Linked DNA regions of Homo sapiens: region 1 is linked to region 2. The links come from fine-mapping of genetic effects on gene expression. A gene starts in region 2. The other region holds a variant in brackets. All regions are shown on one strand. Distances are from middle to middle. Region 1 has its middle 19 kb from the start of MTURN. Region 2 holds the start of FKBP14-AS1 (FKBP14 antisense RNA 1).

The links. PIP is the estimated chance that this variant, and not a neighbour inherited with it, causes the effect.
Region 1: its variant is the best candidate, but not a certain one, in a credible set for the expression of FKBP14-AS1 in prefrontal cortex (BrainSeq, PIP 0.68).

The regions. Positions count from the first base shown.
Region 1 is chr7:30,112,813-30,118,200 of GRCh38, reverse strand. It overlaps a transcript of PLEKHA8 not described here. Among named protein-coding and RNA genes, the nearest start is that of MTURN, 19 kb to the left of the region's middle. The variant A/G (reference allele first, on the strand shown) is at 2,438.
Region 2 is chr7:29,985,745-29,991,127 of GRCh38, reverse strand. It overlaps FKBP14-AS1 (FKBP14 antisense RNA 1), which reads right to left and starts at 2,472. Exons shown (of 3, transcript NR_187577.1): 1 at 2,335-2,472. It overlaps SCRN1 (secernin 1), which reads left to right and starts at 1,327. Exons shown (of 8, transcript NM_014766.5): 1 at 1,327-1,486. RefSeq lists silencers at 1,201-1,540, 1,561-1,610, 1,621-1,890, 1,981-2,100.

The sequences.
Region 1 (5,388 bases), 130 kb before region 2:
TAACTCAGGATACTCTCACATACTTCCTTCTCTCCAGGAGGCATCTCGGGGCTTGCTGGGCATCCTGGCCCAGGAGAGGCATTTAGTCCAGGCTGATCCCCTGGAGAGAGGCGTCACCCAGATGTGATGCATCCTGTCTCATGCTGGGTCATCATGTCCTGCAGGCCACTCTGCACCCGCCTGATTCTGAGTGACAGCCCTCCTGGGCCACCATCAGACATTTGTGTGTCCCTGTTAGAAATGAATCCACGTCTCAGTTTTTAAATTTTTTAAAAAATAAAAATATGAATAAAGTCTTGGCAATCTTTAATCTACAGGAAGTAGAGTTGTGTAGTTATACTTCTGTTTCTAATATCTTGTTGGCAACATAAGCTTTGTGCCTTCATTTTTTTAGTGTGCACACTAAACTTTTGAAACTTAAAATTATTTTTCTCATAAATTCTGGCAGTTGTAAATCAAAACTGTTGTTTTTTAAAGATTTTAATTTTTTTCTGGAGGGGGGTCTTGCTCTGTCACACAGGCTGGATGGAGTACAGTGGCATGATCATGGCTCACTGCAGCCTTGAACTCCTGGGCTCAAGTGACCCTCTCGCCTCAGCCTCCTGAGTATCTGGGACTACAGGTGTGTGCCAACATGCCTGGCTAATTTTTTTATTTTAGTGGAGATAAGGTCTCACTATGTTGCCCAGGCTGGTCTCAAATTCCTGAGCTAAAGCAATCCTCCCACCTCAGCCTCCCCAAGTGCTAGGCTTACAGGCAGGAACCATCGTGCCTGGCCCTAAATTTAATTTTTAATAAATTACATTTTAAGGCTATTATTTCTACTACAAATTTTAAGAAACTAACTTGGAACTAATTTAAGTCTCAAGAACCTAACTTGGAACTCAAATTCATTTGGCCAAGACATTGTATAGTGCTAACTTAAGTGGGAAGGGCCATGGGGTAACTTCTAGGAAATGCACACACACATATAATTTCATTGTATGGCATGAGTTTGAATCGATTTCTCAATTACTGTGAGCTGAGAACCCCAGTCTCCCAAAAATGCTTTCTATCCTTGACCCTGCCTGCCTCTCACAATTTCCAGGCTGTCTCCTTAATAACGTTCAATCTGCCTTCCACAGTCATTACGTCAACTGGGCACAGATGCTGGAAGGCAGACGGAAAGGCGGTGACAAAGTTAGACCTACATTTGCAAGACCAAGTGAAACACACACCCACTCTCCTGAAGCCAAACTGCTTTTGGAAGGCGGGCAGGGGAGTGCCATTCCCTCTAGCATACTTGTCATTCCCAGCCTAGGTTTCAGATCCTTTTTATACACTGGCCTGTGGAGAGACTTGCTGCTAAATTCTGTTATTTCACAGCCCATCTCTAGCAACTGTGTTGGGGAACGACTTCAGACATTCCAGGTTTTGCTCAGAGAGCAATTTTCAACAAGAAAGCCAGAATGGGGGAGTAGCTAAGATTTAGTTGCAGCAAATTGGAGACCGGAAATATAAAGTTATTCAGAACAGTCAATGAAAATCATTTATATGGGAGAGAAACAACATGATCTTGCTTTAAATGTAAGGCATCTATCAGCGGCACAATGTTAATTAGGATTCTAGGGCTCTTAGTGCAGCTATTCCCTTTTTTATTTCTAGGTTGCTAGGTGCAGAAGAGTAGATTTGCAGAACAGCTAATCAAATATATGCAAGAAGATGCCCCTCATTTATCCTTAAGCTTCTAAGGCAGAAGTTTTTCTTCAGTTGTTTGTTCTTTAATGAATTTTAATGATGTAAGAAAAATACAATACACTATTAGGTGAAAAATCGCACATGTAAACAGATATTCACACATGAATCAAGTTATATAGTACATATATACATACACACATATGTGTATGTATATATGTATACATGTATGAATACATACATGTATACATACATACATGTATGCATGTATACGTGTACATGTATACGCATACATGTATACGTATATACATATGTATACATGTATACGTGTATGTATGCGTATGTATACATATGTATACACATGTATACGTGTATGTATGCGTATGTATACATATGTATACACATGTATACGTGTATGTATGCGTATGTATACGTATGTATGCGTATGTATACATGTATACGTATGCATACGTATGTATGCGTATGCGCACATGTATGTATACGTATGTATGCGTATGTATGCGTATGTATGCGTATGCATACATGCATGCATGCACATGTATGCATGCATGTATGCGTATGTGTGCATGTATACATGTATGTACACGCACGCATGCATGTATACATGCATGTATACGCATGTATGCGTGCCTACATGTATGTGCACGTATGTATGCATACGTGTATACATGTATGTGCACGCATGTATACATGCATGCGTGTATACATGTATGTGCACGTATGTATGCATGCATACGTGTAT[A/G]CATGTATGTGCACGTATGTATACATGTATACGTGTATGCATGCATGCGCGTATGTATACATGTATACGTGTATGCATGTATGTGCGTATGTATACACGTATACATGTATGTGTACATGTGTGCATGTATGTGTACATGTATGTGTGCATGTATAAATGTATGTATACATGTCTACATGTATACGTGCATGTATACATATGTCTACATGTATACGTGCATGTGTACATATGTCTACATGTATACGTGTATGTGTACATATGTATACATATGTCTACATACACGTATACATGTGTGTATACATATGCATACATATATACATGTATATATGTATATCTAAACACATATAATACAAAAAGGAGAAAACATTTAAAACATGGCCATTTTTAGGTAGTGGTACAATGAGTAGTTTGCATTTTCCTCCTAACACTTCTATGGATGTCCCCAATTTTTAAATCAGGCTTACCAAGAGAAAATAATTAACATCATACTTTTTTTAAAGGGTGGAATGAGACTCCTAACTTTCTTAAAAGAAGATGTGGGGAAACAGTCTGAAAACTCTCCTGCCATACTGCCTTAAAATGCTTGACAAAATACAGCAAAAATTATTTTAAATGCATGAATGAACTGGCAACAGAGAAAGGAAGTCTCCAGGTGTGTCAGTAACAAAGAGAGAAGTGAGTGGTAAGGATGTGGGATGCTGCCACAGCTGGGCTTAGTTAAAAAACTGCAGCAGTTTTTAAAAGGCTACACCCACACTGAAAAGAGTAGATTAGGAGAACCATCGATGCACTGGCACGGAGAGACAAAAAAGAATTTATATGCCTCTGTCTGGATGGGGAAAAATGTCCTCTGAGAAATGAATTCTCAGGGTCTTTTTCTACCTCAAATTTGGAGGTTCAAATTTGCAGATGGTCCAGGAACCATGATGATAAATGACTCCCAAAATGATAAACAGCCAAAAAAGAGTTCCACATCTGGTGATCTTTCTGTGGCAAATGCAAAACTGCTCTTGAGGGACACATTTACAACCCAGGCCACGGGGATTCTCACAGAAAAACAGCCTTCTTTAAAGATAAGCTCACAAACACAAATAATGAAATGCAGGAGGACAAAATCCTGCTGACTTAAAAGTCAGCAGACACAATAAATAGCACTAAAAGATACCCTAAAACTTCATATAATAGAATGACAATTGGAAAGGGAATGTAAAATAAACATGCTTAAAATTATTAAAGCCCTAAAAGATGTAATTAAAACACCAAGAACGGAACAAACCTCATGAGAGGCACTGTTGCACGGTAGCTAAGAGCGCAGAAACTGAAGCTAAAGTGCTGGGTTCAAATCTCGTCACTATCACCTACCACCACCTGGGTGACCTTGGGTGTGTCACTTAATATTTCTGTGCCTCAAGTCCCTCATCTGTAAAGTAGGTATACTAATGGTATCTATATCAATGGGTTATTGTAAGGATTAAGTGTGTTAATATATGTAAAGTGATTAGAAGAGTACACATATGCTTGGCACAGAGTAAGTTTTAGCTACTATTGTAACAAAAAAAAGAAAAGTAGGGCAGGTGTGTCTCACTCCTGTAATCCCAGCACTTTGGGGGACTGAGGTGGGCAGATAACATGAGGTCAGGAGTTCAAGACCAGCCTGGCCAACATGGCAAAACCCTGTCTCTATTAAAAATACAAAAATTAGCCAGTCATGGTGGTGTGCACCTGTAATCTCAGCTACTGGGGAGGGTGAGGCAGGATAATCACTTGAACCTGGGAGGCAGAGGTTGCAGTGAGCTGAGATTGTGCCCCTGCATTCCAGCCTGGGCATTGGTGAGACTCTGTCTCAAAAAAAAAAAAAAAAAGTAATATTTTGAACAGAAACAAATTAGAATGTGTAGAAATGAGAACTAGCTACTAAAAGTTTGTAAGCTGAAAAGAAGTTGAAGGGAGAATTAGTAAATTAGAAGTCCCATCTGAGGAAATTGTGCTAAGTGCAGCAATATGATGAAGTGATGGAAAATGTTAAAAGGAGGTTATGAGGCCTAAGGAATGAGATAGTCCAATATGTATTTAATAGAAATTCCAGAAACAGTAATAGGGAGAATAGTGAGGTGGTAGTATTCAAAGAGATAATAACATAGACTCTACTAGAATTGTAAGGAAAGAATCTGCAGAATAAAAGCATGCACTGAGACCAAAGATAAGAAATGAAAATAAATCTACACTACACATAATAGGGAAACTGCAGACCACAAAACAAAGTGAAGATCCTAAATGCCACCAGAGGTAAAAAGGACAGACTACCTATAAAGAAGCAAAAAATAAGTTGACAGCACAGTACTCAATAGTCAGAGGCCAAGAGACAACAGAAAAAATATCTTCAAAATATAGAGGGAAAATAACTGATAAGCTAGAATTTTATAACTAGCTAAACTATAATTCAAAAGTCAGGCAGAAAAAAGACATTTTTAGGCAAAGACTGAGTTTACCATTCATAGGCCCTTCCAGAAAATGTTACTATGGGAACATTTTACTTCCAGAAGGAGCAAATCAAAACCAGAAGAAAGATGCAGAAAGCAAGAACTAATGATCTCCAAAGAAATAGCAAATGTGGGTAAACCAGAGCAACCACTGACTGTAGAAAACACCACTCCTACTGCTAATAGTAATGATGATGATGATGAATTTGAGGGACATAAGGAGGCACAAAACTATCAGAAGACAAAAACATGTCAGACAAGAGGCAAGTGACTGGTGTTAAAATGTTCTAAGGTTATTTGTATATTTTAGGAGAAAGGTAGAGATACTGATAAACTTTAGGCTTGTTAAGTCAAGCATATATGTTAATTTTTTTTTTTTTTAAAGAGACAGAGTTTCATTCTGTTGCCCCAACTGGAGTGCAGTGGTATATCACAGCTCACTGTAGCCTTGAACTCCTGGGCTCAAGTGAT
Region 2 (5,383 bases):
AGTCTCCTTCTCTCCCCAGCACCCAGTCTCCCAGTTCTGCTCCCTGGTGGCATCTATTACAGGTTCTTACGTACTCTTCCAAAGATACTCTGTGCATTTACAAAAATAAGTACAGACATACATATATATTTTCTTCCCACAAATAACACACACAACGTTCTGCACCTAGCTTTTTATTTTTCTTTAGTTAGTATAGGTTGGAAATAGTTTTGTATTAGCAAATAAAGATCATTCTCCTTTTTAAAGGAAGCTGGATAGTAGAGGCAGGCGGATTGCCTAAGCTCAGGAGTTTGAGACCGGCCTGGGCAACATGGTGAAACCCCATCTCTACTAAAAATCAAAAAAAATTAGCGAGGCTGGTGGCGTGGGTCTGTAGTCTCAGCCACTTGGGAGGCTGAGGCACGAGAATCGCTTGAACCCGGGAGGCGGGAGGCGGGAGGCGGGAGGCAGGAGGCGGAGTTTGCAGTGAGCCGAGATCCTGCCACTGCATTCCAGACTGGGCGACAAAGCAAGACTCAAAATGTTTTGATTTTTGTTAATCTGGCTGGTGGAAGATGCTACCCCACATATTTGATTTGCAGTTAAGTGAGCCTGAATATCTTTTCGTGTGCCAGGATAGAATTGCATTTATTTTCCTCTGAATTACGTCTTCATATCTTTTGAGATAGTCTTTTCTTATTTACTTATAAAAGATGGAGTTGACGCTGGCATCAACACACACACACACACACACACACAGACACACAACACACAAGTCCCTGTACATAACTTTATTAACCCAGATATGGAATCTTGGCTTAGTTACGTGCTGTGTGACCTTGGGCAAGTTACTTAACCTCTCTAGGCCACAATGTCCAAGTACCTGGGACAGGGTCTGGCTTACCAACATGGTACAGGACGGCACTTTTAAAACCAGGGACTCGACTTGGACGTGCGAGTCAACAAGGTACAGGACACATTTCTCTCCGGGGAAATCTTGTGTGGGCGCCGAGGCCCGGACGTAGCAACCAAACGTCGGGAAGAGGCGCCAAAAGGATGCTGGGCCTGGCTCCTTGAAGCCCGGGTTTTCCCTTTTGAGAGCCACAACCAAGAAATAAAAATCTAGCAAAGAGGGGGCCACTTTCTGCGGCGAGATACGCCCTCTCGGCCGCTCCTCCAGCTCCCAGGCCCCCTCCCTACTCGACGGTGAGCAGCGCCGCGGCCCGTGCAGCCAGACGCGCGGGGTGCGGCGGGGCCCCGGGGGCCGGGGTGGGGGAGGCGGAGGGTGGGCCCGCGGTCACGTGAGTCGGGCCAGCTGCTGCGGGGGGCGGCGGGCCCCAGCGCCGGGAGTCTGGGTAGGGGGAAGCGCCCGGCGGCCGCCTCCGCCACTGCAGCTGCAGCCCCCGAGGTCGCCGCAGTAATCCGGACCCGGCAGCACCCGCACCCTCGGCGGCCGCAGCCTCAGCACCGCAGAGCGGAGAGCGGAGCCCGGAGCCCGCCGCCCCAGGTGAGCCGCGTCTGGGAGCGCAGGGCGTTTGCAGCGCTGCTTTCCCGGCGGTTTCACCCCACCCGCCATCGCCACCTCCTGCGTTTCATCTCCTCCCGCTGTCCCTCCGAACCCGCGGGTAGCGTTACCCCAGGCCGATTCCCGGTGCTGGCCCGGGCGGGCTGGGAGCCTGGGGGCGGTCAGAGGAGAGGTGGCCTCGGCCTGAAGCCGGGGTGACTCGGCTCGGGGACTGCGGGGGTGCAGTGGAGGGATGCCGGCCCCGGGCTCCCGCACCGCAGCCGGGTTCCCCGCGCTGCTCTTCCTGGGTTTCCTTTTCCTGGCAGCCAACCTGCTGCCCACTGGGATGTGCCTGTGGGCCCCTGGCCTCGCCACCCTGGGGTCTGGGGCGAGCCGGGCACCTTCCCCGAGGTGCCGTACCTGCTGCGCGGGCGGGCGCCGCGAACATGGCTGCCCGGAGACGCCCGCCGCCTTCGGCCCGGCTCTGCCAGCGCGTCCAACTCGCCCGCGGCCGCCGCACCGTGTCCCGGAGCAGCCCTCCCCGCTAGGCCGACGCGCGCGGGCCGCCCCTGGGTTCTCCGCGGGCCGCGCGTGGGACTTGACACAACTTCCCTCGAGCCGCACCCGGGCGTTCTCCGCGGGGCGCCGGGCGGGGCTGCCGAGAGGCCGGCTTGGTCGGCCTCTGCCTCCTCGGCTCGCTCTTGAGGCGTCGAGTATTTGGCGACCTCACTCGCGAGGGCCGAGAGAAATGTGGTCTGCAAAGCAGGAGGGGCGCTTGAACTTTAGAGAATTGGCGAGAACTCGGATTTGGGAATAAAAATGTCCATGAAAACATCGAAGGAAACTGTTACCTGCTTTGACTCAAAGCTGACCTTGTAGGGTTCTGTTAAATAACGTGGCTTTTCTGGATTTTCTGTCTGATTCTAGCATGCAAGTCCTTGACTTACGCTTGCGTCCGGCAGCCGGGTGGGGTGGGTGCGTGCGTGTGTGTGTGCGCGTGTGCGCGTGTTGTGTTCCCAGCCTGGTTAGAAGATGCATCAGTTGCGGAGGAAACCTATGCTAATTCAAAATGGCAGCATGAAAAATAGGCCAGGCGGAAGCAGCACAGACCACAACCATCAGCTGCCCCCTGACTTAAGCCTCAGGGAGGGAATTAGTGTGAGTCAAGGCTCATCCGGGTATGGAGTAGAGAGTGATTCTTGGAGCTGGCTAGATTTTAGGGTGCTGCAGGGTCCTGGGAGTTGTTAAGTGGGAAGTTTGGAGAGCTGTAATTATTTTTCCTAACTTATCAAAAGATGATACAAAACCTAGTTAAAACTCTACGGTTTTGTATGATTTTCTCCAGGCTCAACTAAAGTTGACTCTGTGGCTGCTGATGTCTTTTTGATGCACAACCTGGAGGTCGTTTGATACCTACAAGCTCTTAAAAGAGATGTGTGCACATTGTAAACATCATCCAAGAGCAGTGCACATAACAAATACCAGGTTCTTAGATCAAGTTTCATTGGAAGAACTGATTTAGCGACACGAGGAAGCACCCAGGCATGAGGAAATGGGAAATTCTTGAAAGGTGACTCATTTTAGAATTTTTTTTTTTTAAACAGCCTTTCTTTCCCTTTTCACTTCCGTGCTGCCAGCCATCTTGTCTTTTGGGAAGGAGATACATGAGGAGGCAAATGCTTCAGGGATAATGGAATAGAGGAGGATGAGCTAAGGTCGGGGGGCAGAGGTGGAGGCAGTCTTAAGGAGCCTGCTGTCAACCCCCTTTTTACAGCAGGAAGGCTGAGGCCAGCGGGGCGAATGGACGCCAAGATCATATATCTGGCTGTCAACTGGCAGTGAGAACCCAAATCCAGGTCTCATAACTCCCCCGGGTTCCACATGCTACCTTTTAGAGCCTGGGGGAGAACAGCAAGTCTGTCATTATTAGGAAGGCAAACACTTCGAGCAATGGGAAGCCAAACTGTAATATGAATTACAAAGTCTATAGGTGTTTAAAGTCAATGACAACACCTTAATTTCCTAATTCAAGACTTTTAACTTCTTAAGCTGTATCTACCTCATGTTCACATTTTCCAGTGGTGAAACTGTTTCTATAGTTAAGAACCAAAAACATTATTTTAGTAAAGTCTTTGAGGCAAGAAGTACATTTTTTGATTAAAAATTGAGTTGCTTGTGTTTGTGGAGAACCATTAGGCCAGTTTATTTTGAAAAGGAACCAAAGTAGGCCATGCATTTCATTTTTTTCGACTGTTTCTAATTTTAAGTAAAAGTAAATAACAAGCCTATTGTAAACATAACTTTGAAGCAGTGAAGACAGGCTTTTCCTATGATTTGCATTTGACTTTTCTGAGTCATGAGTCAGTGACCTTAGATCTACTAAAGCAGAGCTAGAAATTGTGCATGGGTTAGTGTGAAGAGGTGGTGAAGATGTGGAAAACGTTTCTTCTGGGCATCTGAACCTTCACAGCCAGTGATGTGCAGAGGGAGAAGGTGGCAGGAGGCAGGGAACAGGGAGAATGTCTTGAGGCAGTGGAACAGATAGGAGCTAAATATGAATATATATATCGAAGTGAAGACAGATGCTGATGTGACATGTGCCATTTAGAAAACTAACTTGCAGCCGGGCGCGGTGGCTCACGCCTGTAATCCCAGCACTTTGGGAGGCCGAGGCGGGCGGATCACGAGGTCAGGAGATCGAGACCATCCTGGCTAACACGGTGAAACCCCGTCTCTACTAAAAATACAAAAAATTAGCCGGGCATGGTGGCACGCGCCTGTAGTCCCAGCTACTTGGGAGGCTGAGGCAGGAGAATCGCTTGAACCCGGGAGGCGGAGGTTGCAGTGAGGCGAGATGGTGCCACTGCACTCCAGCCTGGGCGACAGAGCGAGACTCCGTCTCAAAAAAAAAAAAAAAAAAAAAAAAATTAAAAAAATTAGAAAACTAACTTGCATTAGAGGATGAATGTGAAGATATGCCAAAGATATTTAAAATAGCAAGTTGTAAAAATACAGAAATGCATGCAATTTGTGTCTGTTGAAGAATAAGAATACAGATAAACAAAAGTTATTTTTTTTTAAATCCGTTTTCATTAGAGTCTAGATCTGTGCTGTTTCATCTGGTAGCCACCAGCCTCATGTGGCTATTGAGCACTTGAAATGCAGCTAGTTTGTATTGAGATATGCTGAGTGTAAAATATACACACAATTTCAAAAATTTAATATGAAGAAAGAATTTAAAATATCATTAATAATTTTATATTGATTTTATATTGAAGTAACATGTTGGATATATTGGGTAAAATATATTACTAAAAATAATTCCATGAGTTTCTCTTTACTTTTAAAAATGTGGCTACTAGAAAATATAAAATTGCAAATATGGTTCGCATCTGTCTTGCTCTCTCTCGAGACAGGGCCTCCCTCCGTCACCCAGGCTAGAGTGCAGTGGCACGATCTCGGCTCACTGCAACCTCTGCCTCCAGGGTTCAAGCGATTCTCCTGCCTCAACCTCCTGAGTAGCTGGGATTACAGGCGTGCGCCACCACAGCCCGGCTAACTTTTGTATTTTTAGTAGAGACAGGGTTTCACCATATTGGTCGGGCTGGTCTCGAACTCCTGACCTCAGGTGATCTGCCCGCCTCGGCCTCCCAAAGTGCTGGGATTACAGGCATGAGCCACCTCGCCCAGCCCTTGGATTATATTTCTAGTGGTTTTTAACAGGAACTGGAGGGTGGCTGAGCTCATAATGCTGTTTGTAGAACTGGGTATGTAAGGAGAAGTTAAAACAGAAACTGAAAAGGGGACAGGATGGACGGAAAAGGGACTACAAGAAGTGAGTGACCAGGGAAACTGTAAAGGGAGAGAAGGAGTATGTGGTGGGCTGGGACTGCTGAGTAT